Homo sapiens: one gene and its partners. The protein of the gene in region 1 purifies or fractionates together with the protein of each later gene. This does not show direct contact. Each region holds a gene or a part of one and is shown in the gene's direction. Other genes may lie near its edges. The genes, in order: FBXL4, TTC9C, VSIG8 and DUSP14.

What was found.
Region 2: the proteins of FBXL4 (region 1) and TTC9C purify together in Homo sapiens (affinity purification with mass spectrometry; 3 studies listed by BioGRID and IntAct, with this or other methods). This does not show direct contact.
Region 3: the proteins of FBXL4 (region 1) and VSIG8 purify together in Homo sapiens (affinity purification with mass spectrometry; 2 studies listed by BioGRID and IntAct, with this or other methods). This does not show direct contact.
Region 4: the proteins of FBXL4 (region 1) and DUSP14 purify together in Homo sapiens (affinity purification with mass spectrometry; 2 studies listed by BioGRID and IntAct, with this or other methods). This does not show direct contact.

What each region holds. Positions count from the first base shown.
Region 1 is NC_000006.12:98,868,026-98,874,968, reverse strand, and holds the end of FBXL4 (F-box/LRR-repeat protein 4), read left to right. Parts: intron 1-527; coding exon 528-691; 3' UTR 692-6,434; downstream 6,435-6,943. UniProt on the Homo sapiens protein: Substrate-recognition component of the mitochondria-localized SCF-FBXL4 ubiquitin E3 ligase complex that plays a role in the restriction of mitophagy by controlling the degradation of BNIP3 and NIX mitophagy receptors.
Region 2 is NC_000011.10:62,731,455-62,738,485, forward strand, and holds part of TTC9C (tetratricopeptide repeat protein 9C), read left to right. Parts: intron 1-1,663; exon of another isoform or gene 1,664-1,745; intron 1,746-3,927; coding exon 3,928-4,110; intron 4,111-6,833; coding exon 6,834-6,928; 3' UTR 6,929-7,031.
Region 3 is NC_000001.11:159,853,809-159,859,681, reverse strand, and holds the end of VSIG8 (V-set and immunoglobulin domain-containing protein 8 precursor), read left to right. Parts: intron 1-769; coding exon 770-948; intron 949-1,390; coding exon 1,391-1,592; intron 1,593-1,715; coding exon 1,716-1,937; intron 1,938-3,038; coding exon 3,039-3,158; intron 3,159-3,521; exon of another isoform or gene 3,522-3,600; coding exon 3,601-3,799; exon of another isoform or gene 3,800-4,655; coding exon 4,656-4,929; 3' UTR 4,930-5,366; downstream 5,367-5,873.
Region 4 is NC_000017.11:37,492,861-37,499,891, forward strand, and holds part of DUSP14 (dual specificity protein phosphatase 14), read left to right. Parts: intron 1-7,031. UniProt on the Homo sapiens protein: Involved in the inactivation of MAP kinases. Dephosphorylates ERK, JNK and p38 MAP-kinases. Plays a negative role in TCR signaling by dephosphorylating MAP3K7 adapter TAB1 leading to its inactivation.

The sequences.
Region 1 (6,943 bases):
AGGCAGATCTATTGAAAATCTTTTCCAGCTCTGGGATTTCTTGAATCCTTGCTGCATTCATCAGAAAGGAACCCTGTGTAATTTTGTTGCTTCTTACTTTTAGCCAGGGGTGCTAGCAGTGTCACAGTAGTTATCATTGTCCACACAATTGATACTTTGTGAAGTCATATCGCACTTGCACATTTTACATCAAATGCATGGTGAAAACCATTTTGAACTGGGGTGACAGAAATAGGAAAGTCTGGAGGAGCTGATTTGAAGGGGTAGGAGGTAGGAATGAAGATAGTGGGTAGGATATTGGCAAGATTCAGGTCCTAGATGCTAAATTGGCTGGAAAATTCAACTTTTACTTTTTTAACAGAACCATTTCAATATGAAGTCATGTTTGAAAAAATGATTTTAATTTGTAAAGGGTTATTTTAAGTTCATTACAAACAATAAATCATGGATGGATTCATTGTTAGCACATTATATAAATGTTATACTTAAGGTGTTTTGTTTTGTTTTGTTTTGTTTCCCTTAAATAGGAACAAGAATGGTAAGTCCGGCATCCTTAAGAAAACTCCTGGAATCTTGTAAAGATCTTTCTTTACTTGATGTGTCCTTCTGTTCGCAGATTGATAACAGAGCTGTGCTAGAACTGAATGCAAGCTTTCCAAAAGTGTTCATAAAAAAGAGCTTTACTCAGTGACTTAATATATGTTCTGTATTAAAATTAATGTGCTTTGTTGGGGTTTAATTTTGGGATTGGTTTTGGGTTTTGTTTTTAGTTGTTTTAATGGTAAGAATTAAGACATTTGTAGATTTTAAAGAAAAATATGAAATTGTCCATTAAATCAAGTAAAAATGTGCACAAATGTTTTCATAAAATACTGCAAGCACTTCTCTTCAAGAATATGAGTGGATATTATTTTTACCTTATGTTAATCAGTGATATGCTTTAGTCAATAATATGATTGATAAAAGAATAACATGGAATCATGCTAACTTATTTTCAAAGGAACACTGAGCAATAAAGTATCGTGGCATTTATGCAAAAAAAAAAGTTAATTTTTTACACCTTCATGTAAGGATGTCTTATTAAGCCTGTGACCTGGCAAGTGTTTTGTTTGGTATGTACAAAATGGTCAGAGCTAGTTGGAGAATGAGACATGCTTTTCCAGCTGTTTGGTTATTTCTCTGGATTAACTGTTCAACTGGAAAATTTTTAGTTTTTCTAGCCAGGTGTGGTGGCACACACTTGTAGTCCTAGCGACACAGGAGGTGGAGGCAGGAGGATTACTTGAGATGGGATTTTGAGACTCTAGTGTACTTATGATTGCACCTGTGAGCAGCCACTGCACTCCAACCTGGGCAATATAGCAAGTCCCTTTCTCTTAAAAAAAATTGTAGTGTTTCCACTTTTCTTCTGATATTTTTGTCTATTTCACTACTGGATAATGCCAATATAAAAATTTGGGTATAATCAAGAATAAGAGGTAAACTACTAAATAAAAAAAGCTTTCCAACTGTTAGAAGCAGATGCCTTAACATTTTGTGAAAGGTAAAGTTTTGAGGTTTCTGAATTATATAAAAAAACATAAATGTGGAGATATATATTATATATACACATTATATATACATATTATAGATAATATATATCCACATTTATGATTTTTAATATATACATGTATATATTATATATTATATAATTATATATTACATTTATATTATATGTAATGTACATGTATATATTATATACATATATATAATTATATATATTATATAGAGAGAGATATATATCTTGCTAGGGTGTGTGGATGCTGGAATATAACGATTTTGCACTTAACAGGACAATGAATTTTGTTATACTACAGTTAATATTAGTTTTGTGTTCAAAACAGCTGTGCCTTTTCATGCCACAAAATATTTTCTGTCTACTTTCTGAGTAGCAGAATTAATTCATTTTTTTAACAAAACGATGTATGTCAAGTGTTCAGTAGTCACATGAGGAGAATGCTTCCTTTGTGCCTGGCACTGTTTCTTGTGCTTTGCATTGACTAATTCAATTCTCACAACAACCCTGTAAGATAAATGCCATTACTTACCCCCATTTACAGATGAGGAAACTGAGGCAAAGAAAGATTGAAGAATTTATTTATGATCATACAGCTGCTAGTGGCAGAGCCAACATATAAACCCAGGCCATCTGGCTTCTGAAGCATTGCATTAAACCTGTGCTTTTAGGTGTTCAGGGTAGCTTCTGGCTCTAGGGCAGAGGTCAGGAAACTTTTTCTATAAAGGGCCAGATAGTAAATATTTTAGGCTTTGTGGGCTAAGAGGTAAAACTGAGATTGTTATGTAGATACTTAAATAACTAGAGAGAAATAAAATTTGCACGAAAATTTTATTGACAAAATTCAAAACAATAATTTAGAACAATTTTTTTTGTAATACGGGTTTACTAATGAAAAGAATTAAATATTTACAGGGAGGATCAAAGTTAATGTTTCGTGTCATTAAAGTTGATTGTAAGTACTCATTTGTTAATGCTGATCTGTAATAAGATTTTATGTATTTTACTTCTGAAAATTCCTTGCAGATAGGTATTGTCAAATACTTACATTAATCCATGAGAATATGATTTTTGTTGAGCATATTCATCACTTGAAAGGTTACTTCTTCTCTGGATATTTTCCTTTTAGCATGTTATTACATTGCAGCTTAATCACTTCCAATTGAAGACTAGGCAGAAGCTCCTCAATTGCACTGTTAAATTGATTTTGAAAAATGGAAATTTCCTTTACATTTGCAAACTCCAAAAAATACTGCAGGCACTATGGTGTGAGCTACAAATTTGTGTGAGAGTGGAGATCTCGCTTCTTTGTCTTACCTTTTGATAGCACAGGAAATGTGTAAAGCAGCTTGTTGTTACTTGTAATTCAAACAATGTTGTCATCAAAATGACTTATGTTTTGCTTGTAAACACGTTTTGCCTTGTAATTTTGGCTTGAATTCATTTCAAAATTTTATTAAGTCTTGAGCAAAAGCTAAATTCCAAAGCCATTCAGTGTTCCATAATAGTGATTGAGGACATGTCTTCTTTTTCAGAAAAATGTCAATATCAGCCCTGAACGCAAAAGCTCACAATAGAACTAACACTATTATGCCAATGTGGTTGGGCAAATCAGCATATTCATCTTCTGTATCTGACAAAAGATAACTGAACCATTGATGTTTAATCTATCAGAAACTATGAGAGCAAATGAAGTTCACCATTGCTACCAGTAGTTCAGTAATACAAAATTGAATCAAATATATCCCACAAAGTACCTGCTGATGAATAATACAGTAAATAACCATAGATTTTAAATACCTTCTTACCTTTTCACAGGCTTTATAAATTTGACAAACGTAATCATTTTGCTTCACACATTTTTAACACCACCAGTTGTAACACATCTTAGCAGATTCTACTTCAGGTTGCATGAAATTTGTGTTTTCTTCTTATAAAATATTCATGCTTGTAATTGTGCCACACAGATAATTCATAGAGACTAATTTCAGTCACTTCAACGTTGGCATTGACTTATCAAATAAGCAATAACTAGGCAGTGTCAGTAACATCTGTTGACTCATCAAGAGCCAAGGAAAACCACTCAGGGTCATTTGCCTTGTTTTTTATTGACTGTTGATGTTGTTCCCAGTGTTCTCAATTCTTTAAGCAACCATTCTTGCCAAAAGGCTAATTTAATAGTCTTAAGTTTACTTTGGACACAGTCCTTCAGCCGATAGAATCAAACACAATTTAGTTATCGTTAGTAAAATGTTTTCCTTGCTTGGTTAACATCTGAGTCACTTTGGCTGCAACTTTATTTTCATTTTTGAGTTTGTTTTTTTTTTTTTTTGAGACTGAGTCTCATTCTTTTGCCCAGGCTGGAGTGCAGTGGCACAATCTCAGTTCACTGCAACCTCCACCCTGCAGGTTCAAGCGAGTCTCCTGCCTCAGCCTCCCAAGTAGCTGAGATTACAGGCACATGCCACCACACCTAACTAATTTTTATGTTTTTAGTAGAAATGGGGTTTTACCATGTTGTCCAGGCTGGTCTTGAACTCCTGACCTCAAGTGATCCACCCACTTCAGCCTCCCAAAATGCTTGGATTACAGGCATGAACCACTGCATCTGACCTCCCTATAGTATTCTTTAAGAACAGCTATAATGACATTGCATATTAAACATCATACTCTGACATCTAATCTGATTTTTAAAAATTCATATACTAATGTGCCTTAAAAATGTCACTTCAAGTCTACTTTTCTTTTTTTCTCTTGTTTTGATGTTATGGGTAAGCACTAGTAATAAAAAATTTAAAAATATTGTGGTATGACAACATATGTGGCACTCAAAATGCTGGTAACTGCATTACTGCAGTTTTTAGTGTGCCAAGTAGCAGTGCAAAATGATGACAGCACCACATAAGTCTCCTTTGCATTTGTTCAACTCTGCCATTCTAATGTGAAAGCAATCATAGACAGTACCTAAACGAATGAGTGTGGCCATGTTCCAATAAAATTTCATGAGCACTGAAAGTTGAATTTTACATAATTTTGATGTGTTACAAAATACTACTGTGTTAGCCATTAGATTTTTTCAGCCATTAGAAAATGTGAAACTGTTCTTATGAGCTGGCTGGATTTGGCTTGTGGACCAAATTTGTGACCCCTATTCCAGAGTATTTTCGAGTCAGTTAATCCATGTTTGCCCATTCCTAATTTTATAAACCACATTCAAACCTGTTAATTCGCTGTTATCATTCTCATTTTGCCATTTAGATTTTAAAATGAAGAGCAGTGTTTTGTTAGAAAAAACAAAATGTTTACCATAACAAGAAAGATGTGTAGACAAGAAAGATATTTATGTAGACTCTTTGTTTGTTAAATTTTGAAGCCAGGTGATGCATTGTTAGCTTTGACAACTGACTTAAATTTTTGTATAATTATTTATCTTTGCATTTTGCTCAGGTAAATTATCTTCCCAGAGTCTAGAAATAAAGATATCCCTGATCCTGTTTAAGAGCATAAATAATACTCTCAATGTAAATTGTTTTGAAATAAGATCTTAAAAATACAAAATGTAGACAATTAATATTCAGGTGCTTACTTTTGAGCCAATATGTAGCAGAGAAAAACTAATTTCTCTGTGGCAGTATTTTTATTTTTGGCATTTCCCAGGAATTAACTGAAGACTAAAACTCATATGTGAAGTGTAATGATACTAATCAAAGAGTCAGTAAAATTTCCATTTGGCTACCATGTATGTGTGTATATATTTATGTATGTATGTGTGTGTTACATATTTGAGACAGGGTCTCACTCTATTGCCCCAGGCTGGAGTGCAGTGGCATGATCTCAGCTTACTGCAGCCTCAGTCTCCCAGGCTCAAGCGATCCTCCCACCTCGGCCTCCCGAGTACCTGGGACTACAGACACCACCACACCTGGCTAATTTTTTTATTTTTTATAGAGACACAGTCTTTCCATGTTGCCTATGTTGGTCTTGAACTCCTGGGCTCAAATAATTTTCCCACCTTGGCCTCCTGTAGTGCTGGGATTACGGGCATAAGCCACTGTGTCAGGCCCCATGTATGTTAATAGTGAATGTTTGGCTTTTCATTTGTTACTTTCAGCTATTAAAGGATACCTATTACAGACACAGGAATTTACATTTTCAAAGTCATTTTTGACACATCAGTGCTGCATCTACTTTTCTCCTTTTAGCACATTTGATATTGATACTTCAGAGAAACTTTTTTAACTACCCTTAAAATCTTGTCAATGACCATTAACTGCCAATCATCACCTCATTTGCTTTTTTTGACAACATACTACTAGAAACCTAGGCTGTGAGTGTAAAACCATAACTGTTAGAATCATTTTTTTGGCAATAGCTCACATTCTGTTAAGAGTCATTTGCTTTAATCAAAGATCATGATTTATTATATATTTTTTATAAGTAGGGATGGGGCCAAGATTATTCCTTTGGCACAGCAGTAAGTGTGCTCAAGATCTTTGCCTGTAAGCTTGAATATTTGGCTTAAATTTTGTGCATATGAATACTGTTAAAGGTATATTTGACTACATTTTGAAAGGAAAAAGGTAGTCCTGCTAAAATTGACATTTAGGGATATTTTAATCTATGTATTTGGTAAAGTAATTAGTGAAGTATTAGTTATAAAAATTTTAAGGAAAACATTTAAAAGCAAAATAGTCGTATCAGATAAATAGAGTAGAATACACTAAAGATAAAACAAGTCTCTGTTACAAATGAAGTTGTCTGTACAGACGACTGAGATATTTTAATTTTATTTACATAAAAATGCTGTTCAATATCTAATGATTTCTGTTGTTTGTATTCTGTACTTTAGAGTAATAAAATAAGTTTGAGTATCTCATTAGTTCACTTTCAAAATTGATCATTTCAGGGCACTGCTGAATATAATGGAAGGTTTGGGTAAATAGGTTTGCGTCACAGCCCCTGTGAAATTACCAGCCTAGATGAGGAGCCATCCGCCTGTGTACAGAACTCTTTTTTTTTTTTTTTTCATTTCTCTCTCTATATATTTTTTATTATTATTATACTTTTAAGTTTTAGGGTACATGTGCACAATGTGCAGGTTAGTTACATATGTATACATGTGCCATGCTGGTGCGCTGCACCCGCTAACTCGTCATCTAGCATTAGGTATATCTCCTAATGCTATCCCTCCCCCCTCCCCCCACCCCACAACAGTCCCCAGAGTGTGATGTTCCCCTTCCTGTGTCCATGTGTTCTCATTGTTCAATTCCCACCTATAAGTGAGAATATGCGGTGTTTGGTTTTTTGTCCTTGCGATAGTTTACTGAGAATGATGATTTCCAATTTCATCCATGTCCCTACAAAGGACATGAACTCATCATTTTTTAT
Region 2 (7,031 bases), on another chromosome or scaffold:
GGCATGGTTGTGCTTGCCGGTAGTCCCAGCTATTCTGGAAACTGAGGTGGGCCAATGTCTTGAGCATGGGAGGCCGGGGCTGCAGTGAGCCAAGATTGGGCCACTGCCCTCCAGCCTGGGTGACAGAGCAAGTAAGACTCTGTCCCCCGATTCCTCCCACCAAAAAGCCTTCCAGAAGCAAACAGCACTCTGACTTCATTCATTCTCTGTCCCGACATAGTTTTATTTTTCTTAAAGCACTTTTTTTTTTTTTGAGACAGAGTCTTGCTCTGTCGCCCAGGCTGGAGTGCAGTGGCGTGATCTCACCGCAAGCTCTGCCTCCCAGGTTCATGCCGTTCTGCCCCAACCTCCCGAATAGCTGGGACTACAGGCGCCCACCACCACGCCCAGCTAATTTTTTTTTTGTATTTTTAGTAGAGACGGGGTCTCACCTTGTTAGCCAGGATGGTCTCCATCTCCTGACCTAGTGATCCTCCCGCCTTGGCCTCCCAAAGTGCTGGGATTACAGGTGTGAGCCACCGCGCCTGGTCAGCACTTTTTTTTTTTTTTTTTTTTTTTTTGAGACCAAGTCTCACTCTGTCGCCCAGGCTGGCGTCAGTGGCGCAATTCTGGCTCACTGCAAGCTCTGCCTCCTGGGTTCACACCATTCCCCTGCCTCAGTCTCCCGAGTAGCTGGGACTACAGGCGCCCGCCACCACGCCTGGCTAATTTTTTGTATTTTTAGTAGAGACGGGGTTTTACCGTGTTAGCCAGGATGGTCTCGATCTCCTGACCTCATGATCTGCCTGCCTCAGCCTCCCAAAGTGCTGGCATTACAGGCGTGAGCCACTGCGTCCAGCCTCTTAAAGCACTTTTAAAAATTAATTTACTTGGGCCGGGCATGGTGGCTCATGTCTGTAATCCCAGCACTTTGGGAGGCCGAGGTGGGCGGATCACCTGAGGTCAGGAGTTCAAGACCAGCCTGACCAACATGGAGAAACCCATCTGCACTAAAAATACAAAAAAATTAGCCAGGCGTGGTGGTGCATGCCTGTAATCGCATCTACTAGGGAGGCTGAGGCAGGAGAATTGCTTGAACCTGGGAGGCGGAGGTTGTGGTGAACCAAGATCGCGCCATTGCACACTCCAGCCTGGGCAACAAGAGCAAAACTCCGTCTCAAAAAAAAAAAAAATTAATTTACTTGGGCCAGGTGCGGTGGCTCACGCCTGTAATCCCAGCCCTTTGGGAGCCCATGACAGGCAGATCACGAGGTCAGGAGATGGAGACCATCCTGGCTGATATGGTGAAACTCCATCTCTATTAAAAATATTTTAAAAATTAGCTGGGTGTGGTGGCAGGTGCCTGTAGTCCCAGCTACTTGGGAAGCTGAGGCAAGAGAATCGCTTGAACCTGGGATGTGGAGGTTGCAGTCAGCCAAGATCGTACCAGTGCACTCCAGCCTGGGCAACAGAGGGAGACTCTGTCTAAAAACAAACAAACAAAAAATTCATTTACTTGTTTCTTCTGTATTCCTCCACTTTTTTTTTTTTTTTTTGACCACTTGGTGGGGATGTTGTAGAAGGGATACAGACATCAGCACAGGCCCTTTAATGTGCTCATCACTGCTGATTCTTGATCTTTCTCAGCACCATGATTTAATAATACTATGTTTAATTCCCACAGTTGTGAAATAGGGAGTGTTTCCCTTCTTAATCATAAAAAGGCAGAACATTGACCTGAATTGCCTGAATTGACTCCTCTGCAGGTTTGTATTTCAAGGTCCCATTAAGTCATCCAAGAGAATAGTGAAGTTATATGCTGTATTGTTACTGAGAATGATGATTTTGGAGTTAGACAACACTTCATTCAAATTTCATATTCCACCTAGAACCTGTAAGATCTTAGACAAGTTATTTGTCTGAGTCTTGATTTCTTCATCCACTAAATGAAGATAGTAACACCTATTTAATAGTGTAGATGCGAAGATTAAACAAGACAGTGTATATCAAGCACATAGCACAGCGCTTGCCATTTCCTGACAATTAATGGCAACCATTATTAACAAAGCTGCAGTACAAGAACTGTGGTGAAATGGGGGATTCAGGACATAGAGCCTCAGGTAGAAGAGATACAATGAAGGTTAGTTTGTTTTTTAAAAAATTGTAATTTATCTAATTTTTTTTTTTTAAGATGGAGTCTTGCTCCATAACCCAGGCTGGAGTGCAGTGGTACAATCTCGGCTCACTGCATATCTAATTTTATATAAAAAATTAATGGGGCCGGGCACAGTGACTCACGCCTGTAATCCCAGCACTTTGGGAGGCAGAGGCAGGTGGATCACAAGGTCAGGAGTTCGAGACCAGCTTGACCAACATGGTGAAACCCCGTCTGTACTAAAAATACAAAAATTAGCCAGGCATGGTGGTGAGCGCCTATAATCCCAGTTACTCAGGAGGCTGAGGCAGAAGAATCACTTGAACCTGGGAGGCAGAGGTTGCGATGAGCCAAGATCACGCTACTGCACTCCAGCCTGCACGACAGAGCGAGACCTCCATCTCAAAAAATAATAATAATAATGAGGGGGCTGGGCAGGGTGGTTCACGTCTATAATCCCAGTACATTGGGAGGCTGAGGCCAGCGAATCACCTGAGGTCAGGAGTTCAAGACAAGCCTGGCCAACATGGCGAAAACCCATCTCTACAAAAATACAAAAATTAGCCGGGCATGGTGATGTGTGCCTGTAATCCCAGCTACTCGGGAAGCTGAGGCAGGAGAATCACTTGAACCCAGGAGGCGGAGGTTGCCGTGAGCTGAGATCGCGCCATTGCACTCCAGCCTGGGCGACAGAGCGAGACTCCATCTCAAAAAAAAAAATAGGGTCTCACCTGGGCATAGTGGCTCATGCCTATAATCCCAGTACTTTGGGAGGCCAAGGTGGACAGATCACTTGAGGTCAGGAGTTTGAGAACAGCCTGGCCAACATGGTGAAACCCCATCTCTACTGAAAACACAAAAATTAGCTGGACATGGGTAATCCCAGCTACTCGGGAGGCTGAGGCAGAAGAATTGGTTGAACCTGGAGGTTGCAGTGAGCCAAGATCATGCCACTGCACTCCAGCCTAGCTGATGAGTGAGACTCTGTCTTAAAAAAATAATAAAAAAAGAATACATTTGTTATTCGGAATACACTTCTTATAACACTGCAGTGAATACTCTGCCAAAAAAAAGGGACAGGGGAGGGTCTCACTATGTTGCCCAGGCTGGTCTTGAACTCCTGGGCTCAAGCAAATCTCCTACCTCAGCCTCCCAAAGTGCTAGGATTACAGCATGAGCCACCATGCTCAGCCGAGTTTTAAATAAATTTTAAAGTATGTTCTTACCAGCTTTATAGCCAAGCCTAACTGGCTACTAAATATGTAGCAGAAAATCAGTAAATATTGAAGTAGATTACAAGATATATGAATTTTTTGTTTTGTTTTGAGACAAAGTTTCACTCTTGTTCCCCAGGCTAGAGTGCAATGGCACGATCTCGGCTCACCGAAACCTCCGTCTCCCAGGTCCAAGCGATTCTCTTGCCTCACCCTCCCGAGTAGCTGGGATTACAGGCATGCGCCACCACACCTGGCTAATTTTTATTTTCAGTAGAGACGGGGTTTCTCCATGTTGTCAGGCTGATCTCGAACTCCCGACCTCAGGTGATCCACCCGTCTCGGCCTCCCAAAGTGCTGGGATTACAGGCATGAGCCACTGCACCTGGCCGATATGTGAAGCTTTTATTCACTGCTGCATCCCCAGTGTGTAGAAGAGTGTCTGGCATATGGGAGACACTTTAGCATTTGTTGACTGAATGTTGTTACCACCCTGTTCAGTACTGTCTTGAGCTGGCCAGTGGAACCTGGTGTAACGAGCCCCTCCTACCTCTTCTCTCTTTTCATTTGGCCCATTAGCTTGTCTCCTTCAGATGGAGCCCGTGAACTACGAACGAGTGAGAGAATATAGTCAGAAAGTCCTGGAACGACAGCCTGATAATGCCAAGGCCTTGTATCGGGCCGGAGTGGCCTTTTTCCATCTGCAGGACTATGACCAGGCCCGCCACTACCTCCTGGCTGCCGTGAATAGGCAGCCTAAAGGTAAGCAAGAAGGGCTTTGAAATGGTAAAGACAAAATTGTCTTGCTGGGGTGGATCTGTGGAAAGGGGGTTTTATTTTACTTTGCCAATGTATTATTTTCAATAAGTAATACATTCACATGGTTGAGAATTCGAACTGAAAAAGTATACGATGAACAGACCTTTTTCCACTCTTGTGTTCTTGTCTCCACAGAAAAGCAGTATTATTAGTTTCATGTGTAGGGGGTTGATGCTTAATCAGACATACACAATATATATGTTGGTATGTCTGTTTCATATATGTATGTATGCCTATTCTAATATATAAATATATGTATATCAACGTGCTTTTATTTATAAATATACAGTGTATATATTTATACATATACATGAATATATATATAAAATAGGCAGGCCAGGTGGGGTGGCTCACATCTGTTATCTCAGCACTTTGGGAGACCAAAGTGGGTGGATCACCTGAGGTCAGGAGTTTGAGACCAGCCTGACCAACATGGAGAAACCCCATCTCTACTAAAAATACAAAATTAGCCAGGCATGGTGGCGCATGCCTGTAAACCCAGCTACTCGGGAGGCTGAGGCAGGAGAATTGCTTGAACCCAGGAGGCGGAGGTTGCGGTGAGCCGAGATCCTGGGCAACAAGAACGAGATTCTGTCTCAAAAAAAAAAAAAAAAAAAAAAAACAGTGTTGTTTTTTGGGGCTGGGTACGGTGGCTTACACTTGTAATCCCAGCACTTTGGGAGGCCAAGGCGGGCAGATCACCTGAGGTCAGGATTTCAAGACCAGCCTGGCCAACATGGCGGAACCCATCTCTACTAAAAAAAATAAAAATACAAAAATCAGCCGGGTGTGGCCGGGCGCAGTGGCTCACACCTGTAATCCCAGCACTTTGGGAGGCCGAGGTGGGCGGATTACGAGGTCAGGAGATCGAGACCATCCTGGCTAACATGGGGAAACTCCGTCTCTATTAAAAATACAAAAAATTAGCCGGACGTGGTGGTGAGGGCCTGTAGTCCCAGGTACTCAGGAGGCTGAGGTAGGAGAATGGCATGAACTTGGGAGGCGGAGCTTGCAGTGAGCTGAGATCCTGCCGGTGCATTCCAGCCTAGGGGACAGAGGGCGGCTCCGTCTCGGAAAAAAAAAAAAAAGCTGGGCGTGATGGCAGGCCCCTGTAATCCCAGCTACTTAGGAGGCTGATGCAGGGAGAATCGCTTGAACCCAGGAGGCAGAGGTTTCGGTGAGCTGAGATTGTGTCGCACTCTAGCCTGGGCGACAGAGCCAGACTCCATCCCAAAAAAAAAAAAAGCGAGTGTCGTTTTTCAAGTTCTGTTCCTGGTCTTTAAGAGTGATTGGAGGCTGGGCATGGTGGCTTATGCCTGTAATCCCAGCACTTTGGGAGGCCAAGGTGGGCGGATCATGTGAGGCCAGGAGTTCGAGACCATCCTGGCTAACATGATTAAACCCCGTTTCTAGTAAAAATACAAGAAATTAGCCGGGCGTGGTGGCGGGCGCCTGTAATCCCAGCTACTCGGGAGGCTGAGGCAGGAGAATAGTGTGAACCCGAGAGGCAGAGCTTGCAGTGAGCCAAGATCGCGCCACTGCACTCCAGCCTGGGAGACAGAGGGAGACTCCATCTCAAAAACAAAACAAAACAAAACAAAAAAACAGTGATTGGAATAGGATGTGTGAATGCCAACAAATACACTTGATAATTTTCATTCTGCCAGTTCTCCAAATGGGGTCTGGCCTTTGGTTTAGCTATCATTTTTATCCTTTAGCTCAGCTAACCCCAGGTATGACCTAGAAAAAGGGCAGTCCTGCTGAGAGAGAATTTGGGACTTACTTTGTTTCCAAGGCAAAAAGGATATTGTGAAGCAGATGAGAGACTCATTCCTGTGTTGGTTGGTTGAGCACTGAAAATTGTCTCCCTTTTGCATTCTGGCTTACAATAGCCACTGGATACTAGTAGCAGAGTCACCAAATGTATAGCAGTGCAGTAAAATCTCATCTAAATGAATGAGAAAGCCATTATGAATTAATAAAGATATAAAATATAAGCCATTTGTTCATGTTTCTCAGCATCCAATACATAAATTAACTGCCACCTATATGAATAGTATCTTTAGAGGCTCTATTTTAATGATAACTGCTTCATCAATCTTGCTTTCATTATGAAATTAGCAACCAGTGTCCAGGCATGGTGGCTCACACCTGTAATCCCAGCACTTTGGGAGGCCAAGGCGGGTGGATCACGAGGTCAGGAGTTCCAGACCAGCTTGGCCAACATGGTGAAACCCCATCTCTACTAAAAATACAAAAATTAACCAAGCATGGTGGTGCATGCCTGTAATCTCAGCTACTTGGGAGGCTGAGGCATGAGAATTGCTTGAACCCGGGAGGCGGAGGTTGCAGTAAGTGGAGATCCCATGCTATTGCACTCTAGCCTGGGTGACAGAGCGAGACCCTGTCTCAAAAGTAAGTAAATAAATAAAATAAATAAATAAATAAATAAATAAAAATTAGCAGCCGGGACAGAGATTGTTTTTTTTCAATTCCAAATGTTATTAATTAATGAGATTTACTATTGCATAGAATGGTTGCGATATATTCAGATCTTGGAGAGATTTTAAAATGGGAGCATGTTAACATTCTCTCCTGCCACAAGGTATGATTATGGTCTTAACTGACTCTAACTGTTTCTAATTGCTTCTCCATCATCTTCCAAGATGCCAACGTCCGGCGGTACCTCCAGCTGACACAGTCAGAACTCAGCAGCTACCATAGAAAAGAGAAGCAGCTCTACCTGGGCATGTTTGGTTAACAAAGAAGAAAGATGCTCCTCCAGTTGAACTTAGGTGGACCATTAAACATGCATGAAGGAGAAATCTGAGCCTCAGCAAGAGAAATTAACCCTATACCTCTGA
Region 3 (5,873 bases), on another chromosome or scaffold:
CACACACCATCACTCACTATCACACACGAACACAGCCAGGCTCCTGGTCACAGCTGTCCACTGTCATGCACAAGCACACACTGTCACTTTTAAGCACTTACATAGCTCACATGGTCACACATCACTATACAAAACCACACAGAGGCATACAGCCACAGACTCACACTGTCATACACAGACACACATAGACACACTTAGTCTTTGGCTTCTCAGGCTGGAGAGGAGTCCCAGAAGCCATTGTAACCACCCCGCTGCCTCTGGACAGGAGGACTTCACTCAGCCCAGACAGAGCCCACATAGGTGACATTTAATCAGCCAGGCTCTTCTATCAGAGCATTTAACAACTCTGTGTGTACCACATGCCTTCACACACACAAACACATCCACACTATCATATAAATATATAAGCAGACACGCTACGTGGTCATGTACATGAATATCCTCACAGTACACATAAGCAGCCACAAATACTCATAAGCATACAATGTACATACGTGTACATATTCATACATGCATACACATAATCATATATACATACAAGCATACATAACAGCTACATATATAACAGCTATATGTATAGCTGTTATATGCCTGTGACAATTCATGCACACACACATACACACCCACTACGAGCAGCCCTCCTTTTTATGAAAGCACTGCTGACCTCTGGGTGCCGTGGACAGAGAATATGAAGGGAAGGGCTGACACTGACTCCTCCTGAAGCCCTGCTTCTGCTCCTACCACCCCATCTTCTCTGCCCTCCCCCTAGCACTGCTGTCTGCTGTGCGGATCAACGGGGATGGACAGGAGGTCCTGTACCTGGCAGAAGGTGATAATGTGAGGCTGGGCTGCCCCTACGTCCTGGACCCTGAGGACTATGGTCCCAATGGGCTGGACATCGAGTGGATGCAGGTCAACTCAGACCCCGCCCACCACCGAGAGAACGTGGTGAGTGCTGGGCACAGGGGTCTCCTTCCTCTAGGCTTCATGATGTCTACCTGTTGGACAGCCAACATCCCAAAGGGAGAAGACTGACCTTGAACCTCCCCCAAGGCCTTTCAGGGAATGAGGCAATGGGGATGAGAGCTCTGCAATTGTGAATTAAGCTAGCCAGTCAGTCTACCTCCTCCCATCCCATTCTAAAAGGAAGATAAGTTGTAGTCTTTGCCTTCAAAAAGTTCCCAGTCTGACCATATATCTTTCCAAGTGCTTGATCTCACCTGATCTCACCAGTTCTGTAAGAGGTCAGTGGCTCAGGCATCATTATTCTCATTTTTTCAGCTGAGAAAAGAGTCTCAGAGAAGTTCAGTGAATTGCCCAAAGCAGCCAATCCACATGGCCCTTCTTGGCTCTGCCTGTTTCACCACCTGTTTTCCTCTCCTCTTCACAGTTCCTTAGTTACCAGGACAAGAGGATCAACCATGGCAGCCTTCCCCATCTGCAGCAGAGGGTCCGCTTTGCAGCCTCAGACCCAAGCCAGTACGATGCCTCCATCAACCTCATGAACCTGCAGGTATCTGATACAGCCACTTATGAGTGCCGGGTGAAGAAGACCACCATGGCCACCCGGAAGGTCATTGTCACTGTCCAAGGTATGGCCAGACTCCTCTAAGCTCCTCTCCCCCTGGCTTAAGAGCCAAGGGCAGCTTGGCCACTTTGAGCCTGGCTCTGTCTCTTGGCTGGGCCCTGGCTTACAATTGTCTGCCTCCTTGCAGCACGACCTGCAGTGCCCATGTGCTGGACAGAGGGCCACATGACATATGGCAACGATGTGGTGCTGAAGTGCTATGCCAGTGGGGGCTCCCAGCCCCTCTCCTACAAGTGGGCCAAGATCAGTGGGCACCATTACCCCTATCGAGCTGGGTCTTACACCTCCCAGCACAGCTACCACTCAGAGCTGTCCTACCAGGAGTCCTTCCACAGCTCCATAAACCAAGGTGAGAGGGCCCTGGATGAGGGCAGTCGGGGGTGAGTGGAAGATCAGGGACTCTGGGACCTGTTGGGGTTTCCTTGGGTTATCAGTGCCATCAAATCAAACCTGGAATCCCTGTGGGAGACCCTCCCTCTGGGCCTGCCCCAGCAGCTGCTATTTTTTTTTTTTTTTTTGAGACAGAGTTTCGCTCTTGTTGCCCAAGCTGGAGGGCAATGGCATGATCTCGGCTCACTGCAACCTCTGCCTCCCGGGTTCAAGCGATTCTCCTGCCTCTGCCTCCCGAGTAGCTGGGATTACAGGCATGCACCACCGCACCTGGCTAATTTTTTGTATTTTTAGTAGAAACGGGGTTTTACCATGTTAGCCAGGCTGGTCTCAAACTCCTGACCTCAGGCGATCCGCCCGCCTTGGCCTCCCAAAGCGCTAGGATTACAGGCGTGAGCCACCGTGCCTGGCCCAGCAGCTGCTATTGAGAGCAGATGATAAGGCAAATGTGGAGAGTCAGTCAAAAGTACTATGGCGAATTTGGAGGGAGCCTGGTCTCAGACAGAGCTGGGCTTGAATCCTGGCTGGGACACTGACTGGCTCCAAGTTTAAGGCAAGTGGCTTACCCTCCCTGTGCCTTAATTTCTTCATATATGGAAAGGGAATACTAACATATACCTTTCATGGGCATGCAAGGATTAAATGGGGGAGGTGTGTAAAGCTCCTAGTACATAGAGAAGCTGAAAATATTCAGTCAAACAAAGAATAATAGAGCTAGGAGGGACCTTAGAGTTCCTCTTCCCCTGGCTTCTCCTGTCCTCACTGTACAAAGGAGGAGACCAAGGCTCAGAGAGCGTACATATTTCCCTAAGGTCAGAGTGAATTAATGGTGTCCCTGTCTTGCTGCTGGGAGAGAGGTCCTTTCTTGCATCTCTTTCACAGCAGGGGGAAGGTGACTCACCTGGAGAGTGGAGTGTGTGTGTGTGTGTGTGGGTGTGGGTGTACACACATGCATAAGCCTTCCCTTCTTCTAGAGTGGGTGTCCCATCCCCCACCCCACAGGGACTGAGGTTGGGGTGGGAGCTCTCAGAGACCAGGCCTCTCTCCACTTCACTTTCAGGCCTGAACAATGGGGACCTGGTGTTGAAGGATATCTCCAGAGCAGATGATGGGCTGTATCAGTGCACAGTGGCCAACAACGTGGGCTACAGTGTTTGTGTGGTGGAGGTGAAGGTCTCAGGTAGGTGCAGCAGTCTTGAGGGCTGGGTGGTTGGGAGGGTTGAACTGGAGGAGGCTGGGCTCTGGTTTGGAGCCTCAGCTGCTTCTGCCTTTCCACTGCCATCCATTTGCCAGTGGGGGCTCCCAGCCCCTTTCCTACAAGTGGGCCAAGATCAGTGGGTACGATCTTGACCCTATTGAGCTGGGTCAAGCTCGCCCAGCACAGCTTCCACTCTGAGCTCTAGAGCCCAGAGCAGCTGGAAGCCCTGGGAGAAGCATGCTGACACGAGGGGTTAACTTGCATCTCCCCATATCTTCCCCACTGGGTGTTCCAGGGCTAAGAGACCCCCTGGGTCCCTCTCCCTCTTTCCCATTAACCCCTGACCTGGCACCTCCTGGTGCTGTTCCCTCAGGCACCTGCCAGGCTGTGAGAAAGCCTGACCTGCCTCCACTTCTCTCCACAGACTCCCGGCGTATAGGCGTGATCATCGGCATCGTCCTGGGCTCTCTGCTCGCGCTGGGCTGCCTGGCCGTAGGCATCTGGGGGCTCGTCTGCTGCTGCTGCGGGGGCTCCGGGGCTGGCGGCGCCCGCGGTGCCTTCGGCTACGGCAACGGCGGCGGGGTCGGCGGAGGGGCCTGCGGCGACTTGGCTAGTGAGATCAGGTAAAACCTGATGCATGCTGCATGCTGCTGTGCGGCAGGGAACCGGCGCCCTGCCCACCTCACTCCTGCCTGCCACCGGCCGGCTGGGCCCCCCACCCCAACCCTGCCCGCCATCGCCACGGAGTGCTGGGACTGCGGCATGTCGACCTGCCACCCAACTCATGGCTTTCCCCTCCCCCTGCCACCCCAGTCTTCACCTCTGCTCCCTGCCTTCCATTTCCCTCCTGCCTACGCACCTGTCTGTCTTGTCTAGACTGTAAGCTCCTGGAGGGCAGGGCCTATGTTTTTTCACGTTTCCCCTGTACTGCGCCGGTAAGAACTCTGACATTATTATTTAAGAAGAGCTAATAATAAGAATAGTGCTAATAACTTATATTAGAAGCAAACTAGAAATAAAAATAGAACAAGTCTAGTAGTGCTAATGATTGCAATGCCTCGGGGATGGAGGGAAAGATGGAGAAGACTGAGGGGCAGGAGGTGAGAAAGAGAGAGATTGCTCGAGCAAGGTCAGGATTAGCTAAGGAAAGAAGAAGAGGAAAAGCACCTTCTTCTGGGCCTGCGAAACATCAGAAAGGGATTGCAGGGGCCTGGAGGGGGCTGCCTGCAGGGCTCTCCAGATACGCGTGGACAAGCCCTGTCTGGAGGATGGGGATGCTGGCTCCGGGACCGCTGCAGGGTCGCCGACCCAGGAAGGGTCACAAAGGACAGTAGGTCGAGGCCGAGGGAGAGAGACGAGGGCAGGTGGAGGGAGGCGCGGGAGACAAGAGGTTGCCAAGAGCCCCCGGCTCTGCCCAGGCCGTGCCCACGCCCCGCTGCGGAGCAGCCCGCTCACCCGCCCGCCTGTTGTTTTCCACAGAGAGGACGCCGTGGCGCCCGGGTGCAAGGCCAGCGGGCGCGGCAGCCGCGTCACCCACCTCCTGGGGTACCCGACGCAGAACGTCAGCCGCTCCCTGCGCCGCAAGTACGCGCCTCCCCCCTGCGGCGGCCCCGAGGACGTGGCCCTGGCGCCCTGCACCGCCGCCGCCGCCTGCGAAGCGGGCCCCTCCCCGGTCTACGTCAAGGTCAAGAGCGCGGAGCCGGCTGACTGCGCCGAGGGGCCGGTGCAGTGCAAGAACGGCCTCTTGGTGTGAGCGCGCGCGCCGGGCCGGGCTGCGCCCCAGCCAGGAGGAGGGCGCGGGGCTCTCTGTCTGCAGCTGGGGACACGTCGGGGCTGGGGACGACCTCGCTCGCCCCAGGCTGCCAGGCGGCTGGGGGTGAAGGCATTTCCCTAAGGAAATGCGTAGGGAGGCAGAGCCTCCTCCCCAAAAGTGGGAAGGGGCGGGCGAGGGCGGAGGAAGGCGATCCTGAGCCTTCTCCGCACCCCCGGGACCGAAGGCTTGGGGGAGAGGGAGGGAGGAGGAGGCTGAGTGTCCTAGAGCGGCTGAGGCCGGAGGCCTGGTGTCCCCAGCCTAAGCAGAGGGCCCCGGGGGCCGGGTGGGTGGGGGTCTGTCTGGACGAATTGTTCTGTGTGTGAGGTCTGAGCTCTGAGGCAGCAGTGTTAGCACAATAAAGAAACATTGAGACGTGAGTCCGAAGTGGCTGTCCGCGTTCCACGGAGGTTGGGCACGGGGTGGCGAACCCTGCCCAGGGCCGGGGAGGGTTGCTTCTGTCGCTCGCCTCGACCACGCCCCCTCTCCTCCCTCCTGCTTAGATCCCTGGCAGTCAGAGCTGGAAGGGGCCATCCAGGGCAACTCCTCTGAACAACATACAAAGTGCAGATAAAAGGAAAACAAAGACAAAAAGAATTAGCTCAGAATATCTACGACCGTAAAATAAACTGAGGAACCGACAAAGTGCAATACACTTGCCATTTCTAAATATTCAAAGTTTTCACATGTCAAGATTTTCTATTGAGAATAATGTGCTCTGAAGGTCTAGGGAGTCTTTGTATGTTGCTGAAAGCTAAAAGGAAACCAGTCCTTGGAGCACAGAAGGCACAGGCATCCGGTGAGACAGAAACAAGGACATGTGAAAATAAGACTACAACCTCTTATATTAAAAAACTAAGTGCCACAGTTCTAGGGTGCTGGGTGAA
Region 4 (7,031 bases), on another chromosome or scaffold:
TTTCCTTCTTTTCTATAGTTTTTATCCCCTAAATATAAATCCCTAATTGACATAGTTTTATTTTGCTTGTTTTTAACCTCAGTGCAAACTAAAAGTAGATACTCTTGTGAATCCTTCCTTCTGGCCGGCATCGTGTGTGTGTGTGTGTATGTGTATGTATGTGTGTGTGTATGTATGTATATACACACGCACATATATAATTTTTTAAATTTCTGCAGCATGCTATTTTAAAAGATTTATCCATATCGTTGCCTATGCCTGTAGTTTTTGTGTTTTAATTTTTTTAGAGACAAGGTCTCACTATATTGCCCAGGCTGGTCTTGAACTCCTGGGCTCAAGGGATCCTCCTGCCTGGGCCTCCCAAAGTGCTGGGATTACAGGTGTGAGCCACCACACCCAGCCCAGTTAGTACATTTTTGTCTTATGAACATACCACAAATTACCTTTCCACTGTTGATGGACATCTGGGTTGTTTCTGGTCTGGGGCAATTATGAACAGCCCTGAGTCAGGTGTGCATACCTTCAGCTTTACTAGTTGATACCTGGTTTCCAAAGTGGTTGTACCAATTTACATTCCTTCAGTGGTGTCAGCCTTGAGTTTGTAAGTCACTGTATTTGCTGTTTAACCACAATTATGCTTGAATATTTTCTGAATGAATGAATAAAGGTCCCTGGGTAGTCCGATCCCTGGCCTGTCATGTGCTAGCGTATTTTTATTTAGTTATATGGTTTGGACTAACCACCCAAATACCAGAAATGGTTTTCCCACTGTGTTTGGTTGACAAATATCTAATGGAATCCTTTCATCAATCTTTTTTTTTTTTTTTTGGAACAGATGAGTAGTTACAGGAAATTTTAAATATGCAAAATGAAGTACTAAAAATAAGTGGCTAGTACCTAGATGTTTTTTAAGGCTCTTGAATGAATCCTGCCTCTGGTGAATGCTTCCATTGTGCCCAGCCCTAAATGTGTAGGACAGTGTAGTGTGCAGGAACCCAGGCCTATCCTTGTTAAAGTACCCTCTGAGGATGAGACTCCTTAAGAGGCACTGTGCACAGACCCTAACTCATACTTCTTGGCAATTCCAAAGTAACCACAGACTCTGTGCTACAGGAATCAATGACTCTTTTAAACTTTTTTTTTTTTTTTTTGAGACAGAGTCTCACTCTGTCGCCCAGGCTGGAGTGCAGTGGCGCGATCTCGGCTCACTGCAAGCTCCGCCTCCCAGGTTCATGCCATTCTCCTGCCTCAGCCTCCCTAGTAGCTGGGACCACAGGTGCCCGTCACCATGCCCGGCTAATTTTTTGTATTTTTAGTAGAGACGGGGTTTCACCATGTTAGTCAGAATGGTCTTAATCTCCTGACCTCGTGATCCGCCCGCCTCGGCCTCCCAAAATGCTGGGATTACAGGCGTGAGCCACCGCACCCAGCCTTTAAATCTTTTAAATGTATTTTTCTCCAAATTTTCCTTTGCCTGAGAAAGTAGAAGTAGCTTAGAGCAGAGTTTTTGTCGTTTTTGTTCATTTTCTTTGTAAGAGATGGAGTCTAGCAGTGTGGCTCAGGCTGGCCTTGAACTGCTGGGCTCAAGGGATCCTCCCACCTCAGCCTCCTAAAAGCTGGGACTGCAGCATGTGCCACATCCAGCTTGAATTCCTGCTTTGTGAACAGACAGTTACCAGGCTCACTTTGATTGCCCGTGTTTAGTTTTGCCAGCTGGATTTGAAGTGTGTGTGTGAGAGAGAGTGAGAGAATGTGAGAAAGAGAAGGAGCAGGAGGGAGGGTGTGGGGAGAGGTGGGCAGTTCACCTGAGGGCAGCCGTTAAATTCAGGTGTTCATTGAGTACTTACCATGTGCCTAGTATTATGTGCTGTGTTTCTGCCCTTAGAGCAGAATGTTACGCAATTCTGTAGGTTTACAAAATACCTCAGGGGAATCCTTTTTAGCTGGAGGGATGATGGAAGAACACTAGCACAAAGACTGAGATTTGTAGATCCTTTTTATTTCTTCTCTAAAGCATCTTGGAAAATAGCTAAATCACTCTATTTTCAGTCTTTATTTACATAAGTCACAAAGACTTTTTTGCTCATTATAGTAAAGATTTTTTTTCAGATTCTCTAAAATAATGATAATTTTAGAAACCACATGCGGATAAATTAGAAGTTTTCAGGAAAAGACACCCAAAGGAGGAGGAGTAAGAAGTCGTTAGTATGAGAACCTGTTGATCTGAGTGATGGGGGAGGAGCCCTGTCGTGTTCTTTGTCACCCCTTCGGCCTTCCAGCGGGCAGCTTTCACAAAGGAGCTCCATTTTCCACCTGTTGCAGGGCAGGGGCAGCCTCAGCCTGGGCGAGGGAGGAGGCCTAGGGCTGAGATCACAGCCATGCCCTTTCATGTGCAGCCCACCCAGCTCACCTGGGCACGTCCCATTCTGTTCTTGCACCAACCTAGAGCAACCAGAGGTCCGGTTGGGTCAGCTTTTCACACCCCATGCCATGTTGAAACCTCAGTGGACGAGAAGGTTCTTTTGAAGTTCATATGCAACTGCTGGGTTTACTTCTGTCTTTGTCCCAGAACAGTTTCAGCATCAATGACCTAGGGCAAGTTTTTTTGTTTGTTTGTTTGTTTGTTTTGACTCCTATGTCTTTGAGTGTGTGGGTACATATGAGAAAACTCCCTAACTAGAGCATGCTGCTTCTGTTGACTAGTAAACATTATGTGGCAGAGAGCGCCTTCAAAGCACCAGCCTTCCCTGCCTGGGAAAGTGACCAGTAGGTGAACTTGCTTTAAGTTTTGTTTTTTTTGTTTTTTTGTTTTTTTTTTGAGACGGAGTCTTGCTCCATCACCAGGCTGGAGTGCAGTGGCGCGATCTCGGCTCACTGCAACCTCCGCTTCCCAGGTTCAAGCAATTCTCCTGCCTCAGCCTCCCGAGTAGCTGGGATTACAGGCGCATGCCACCACGCCCAGCTAATTTTTCTATTTTTAGTAGAGACAGGGTTTCACCATGTTGGTCAGGCTGGTCTCGATCTCATGACCTCGTGATCCACCTGCCTCGGACCCCCAAAGTGCTGGGATTACAGGCATGAGCCACCGCGCCCAGCCTGCTTTAAGTTTTAAGGAAGCACTTGTAAAAATAAAATCTGGAAGTACTGTCAACATACAAATTACATACAAATTTGGAGATTTATAATGAAGAATTTTGCCAATTTAGCTAAAATCTAAATCTTAGATTTAACTAAATCTTTTAAATCTTTGTGTTTCATTATAAAACACAAAACATTTATAATGAAGACACACTTCATGTCATCATTATAAATCTTTGGTGTTATCCTGGCTCCTATATAAAGAGCACTGGCAGGCTCAGGCCAGAAGTGGAGAGGGGGCTTGGACCGACAACTATGTGTTGTTAATTTTCTTCTATTAAAAATATTTTTTACTTTTAGAAATTGAAATCATATAGAAAATTATGCTGGGCACAGTGGCTCACGCCTATAATCCCAGCACTTTGGGAGGCTGAGGCAGGTGGATCACTTGAGGTCAAAAGTTCAATCGAGACTAGCCTGACCAACATGGTGAAACCCCATCTCTTATAAAAATGTAAAAATTAGCCGGGTGTTAGGCCGGGCACGGTAGCTCATGCCTGTAATCCCAGCACTTTGGGAGGCTGAGGCGGGTGGATCATGAGGTCCGGAGTTCGAAACCAGCCTGACCAACATAGTGAAACCCCGTCTCTACTGAAAATACAAAAATTAGCCGGGAGTGGTCGTGGGCCCCTGTAATCCCAGCTACTCCAGAGGCTGAGACAGAGAATTGCTTGAACCTGGGAGGCGGAGGTTCAAGTGAGCCAAGATCATACCACTGCAATCCAGCTTGAGTGAAAGAGCGAGATTCCATCTCAAACAAACAAAAAATTAGCCGGGTGTGGTGGCATGCACCTGTAATCTCAGCTACTTGGGAGACTGAGGCAGGAGAATTGCTTGAACCCAGGACGAGGCAGTTGCAGTGAGCAGAGATTGAGCCACTGCACTCCAGCCTGGGCAACAGAGTAAGACTCTGTCTCAAAAAAAAAAAAAAAAAAAGAAAAGAAAATTATTGAAAGCAAATTAACCAGCATCATAACTCACCATTCAAAAATCATTGCTCATACTTTATCTTTTATAATGCTTAGAAATTAAGTATTATCAAGTCAGAGCTTCCTTGGGCCATTTCTCTTCCCTTCCCACTGAGACAACCACTCCCATGAATTTGGTACATTTCCTTCCAACTCTATTTAAATATCAATTTTACTTCAAACTGCATTTTTTTTTTTTAAAGACAGAGTCTCTTCCCCAGGCTGGAGTTCAGTGGCACAATCTCAGCTCACTGCAACCTCCGCCCTCCAGGTTCAAGTGATTCTCTTACCTCAGCCTCCTGAGTAGCTGGGATTACGGGCACATGCCACCATGCCCAGCTAATTTTTGTATTTTTAATAGAGATGGGGTTTCACTGTGTTGGCCAGGCTGGTCAAACCCCTGACCTCAAGTGATCCACCTGCCTTGGCCTCCCAGAGTGCTGGGATTACAGGCATGCGCTACCGCGCCCTGCCTTCAAACTGCTTTTTTGATGAATGTCAAAAGGACATAGAGGCCTGGTGTGGTGGCTCATGCCTGTAATCCCAGCACTTTGGGAGGCCTAGGGAGGTGGATGGCTTGAGCCCAGGAGTTCGAGTCCAGCCTGGGCAACATGGCAAAACCCTGTCTCTACAAAAAACACAAATTAACCGGATGTGGTGGCTCATGGCTATCGTTACAGCTACTTGGGAAGCTGAGGTGGAAGGACTGCTTGAGCTCAGGAGGTCGAGGCTGCAGTAAGCCATGATTGTGCCACTGTGCTCCAGGATTCTTGCTCAAAAAAAAAAAAAAAGACAAGACAAGACTAAGCATGGTGGCCCATGCCTACAATCCCAGCACTTTGGGAAGCTGAGGCCAGCCAGAGTATCACTTGAGCCCGGGAATTCAAGGCCAGCCTGGGCAACGTGGCAAAACCCTGTCTCTACAAAAAATTAGCCAGGCATGGTGGCGCACCCCTGTAGCCCCAGCTACTCAGGAGGCAGAGGTGGGAGGATCGCTTGAGTCCCAGAGGTTGAGGCTGCAGTGAGCCTAGATTGCACCACTGCACTCCAGCCTGGGTGACAGAGCAAGACCCTGTCTCAAAAAAAAAAAAAAGGACAGAAATCTTTACTAGCCTTTATTTTGTACTGTCACATATGTTCTATGTTTAGGGGATGGAACTCTTAGAGCATTTCACATTTCACATGATATTTCTTTTTTTTCCTTTTTGTCACATGATGTTTCTTGTTAACAAAAATTGGAGAAGTATTTAGTGTTTTACAGAGCTTCAATTACTTGGTGTAAACTTTCAGCCAAAGGTGATCCAAAATGGAAATGGAGTAGAACTTGTTTTGTGTACTAGATTGTATCTTTTTTTTTTTTTTTTTTTTTTTTTTTTTTGAGACAGAGTCTCGCTCTGTCGCCCAGGCTGGAGTGCAGTGGCGCAGTCTCTGCTCACTGCAAGCTCCGCCTCCCCGGTTCACGCCATTCTCCTGCCTCAGCCTCCCCAGTAGCTGGGACTACAGGTGCCCGCCACCACACCTGGCTAATTTTTTGTATTTTTAGTAGAGACGGGGTTTCACCGTGTTAGCCAGGATGGTCTCGATCTCCTGACCTCGTGATCCACCTGCCTCGGCCTCCCAAAGTGCTGGGATTACAGGCGTGAGCCACCGCACCCGGCCTAGATTGTATCTTAAATCCAAATGACTACTGTATTATATGAAAGTAATCAGTTTTTTTTTTTTTTACAAAAATTACACTTACGGAGTTTCTTATTCCATTTATCCTCCTAGAAAGTACAGGAGATATTTTTTCCACAATATCAGATTACTCTTAATAATATTTTTAGATTCCTTCTAAAAAGGTACTTACTAGAAATGTGAATTCCCAGGCCTTCACTTCCAGAAATTCTGATTAATTAGGTCTGGGGTGGGGTCTAGGAGTCTGCATTCTAACAGGCAGCCCAGGTGATTCTCGTGTAGGACTCCTTGGGAGCACACTTTGAAGAATGCGTCTACTATGCTGTGATGGTTTTATAACTTACTAATTTCAACCAAGGATTGGTGTAGTAGCCCATTCTCACGCTGCTATGAAGAACTGCCTGAGACTGGGTAATTTATAAAGGAAAGAGGTTTAATTGACTCGCTGTTCCACATTGCTGGGGAGGCCTCAGGAAACTTACAGTCAGTGCAGGCAGGGGAAATGCCAGACGCTTATAAAACCATCAGGTCTCATGCAACTCACTCAAAATCACCAGAACAGCATGGGGGAAACCGCCCCCACCTGGTCCTGCCCTTGACACGTGGGGATTATGGGAATTACAATTCAAGGTGAGATTTGAGTGGGGACACAGAGCCTAACCATATCAGTTGGCAAACTTTCTTTTTTTTATTTTTTAAATTTTTTTATTTTAAGAGATGGGGTCTCACTGTTTGGCTCAGTCTGGAGTACAGTGGCATGATCCTGGCTCACTGCAGCCTCGAACTCCTGGGCTCAAGCAATCCTCCTGCCTTGGCCTCCCAAAGTACTGGGATTACAGGTGTGAGCCACCACACCCGACCCTCTAGAAGTGTTTTTGTTTGTTTGTTTGTTTTTTGTTTTTTGAGACAGAGTTTCGCTCTTTCACGCAGGCTGGAGTGAACTGGCGCGATCTCGGCTCACTGCAACCTCCATCCCCCCGGGTTCAAGCGATTCTCCTGCCTCAGCCTCCCGAGTAGCTGGGATTATAGGTGCCCACCACCACACCTGGCTAATTTTTATATTTTTAGTAGAGACGGGGTTTCACCATGTTGGCCGGGCTGGTCTCAAACTCCTGACCTCAGGTGATCCACTCACCTCGGCCTCCCAAAGTGCTAGGATTACAGGCGTGAGCCACCATGCCCAGCCTAGAAATGTTTTACTAATTAGTAATGTAGTCTTCTAAAGGGAACTATTACATTGTCATATTG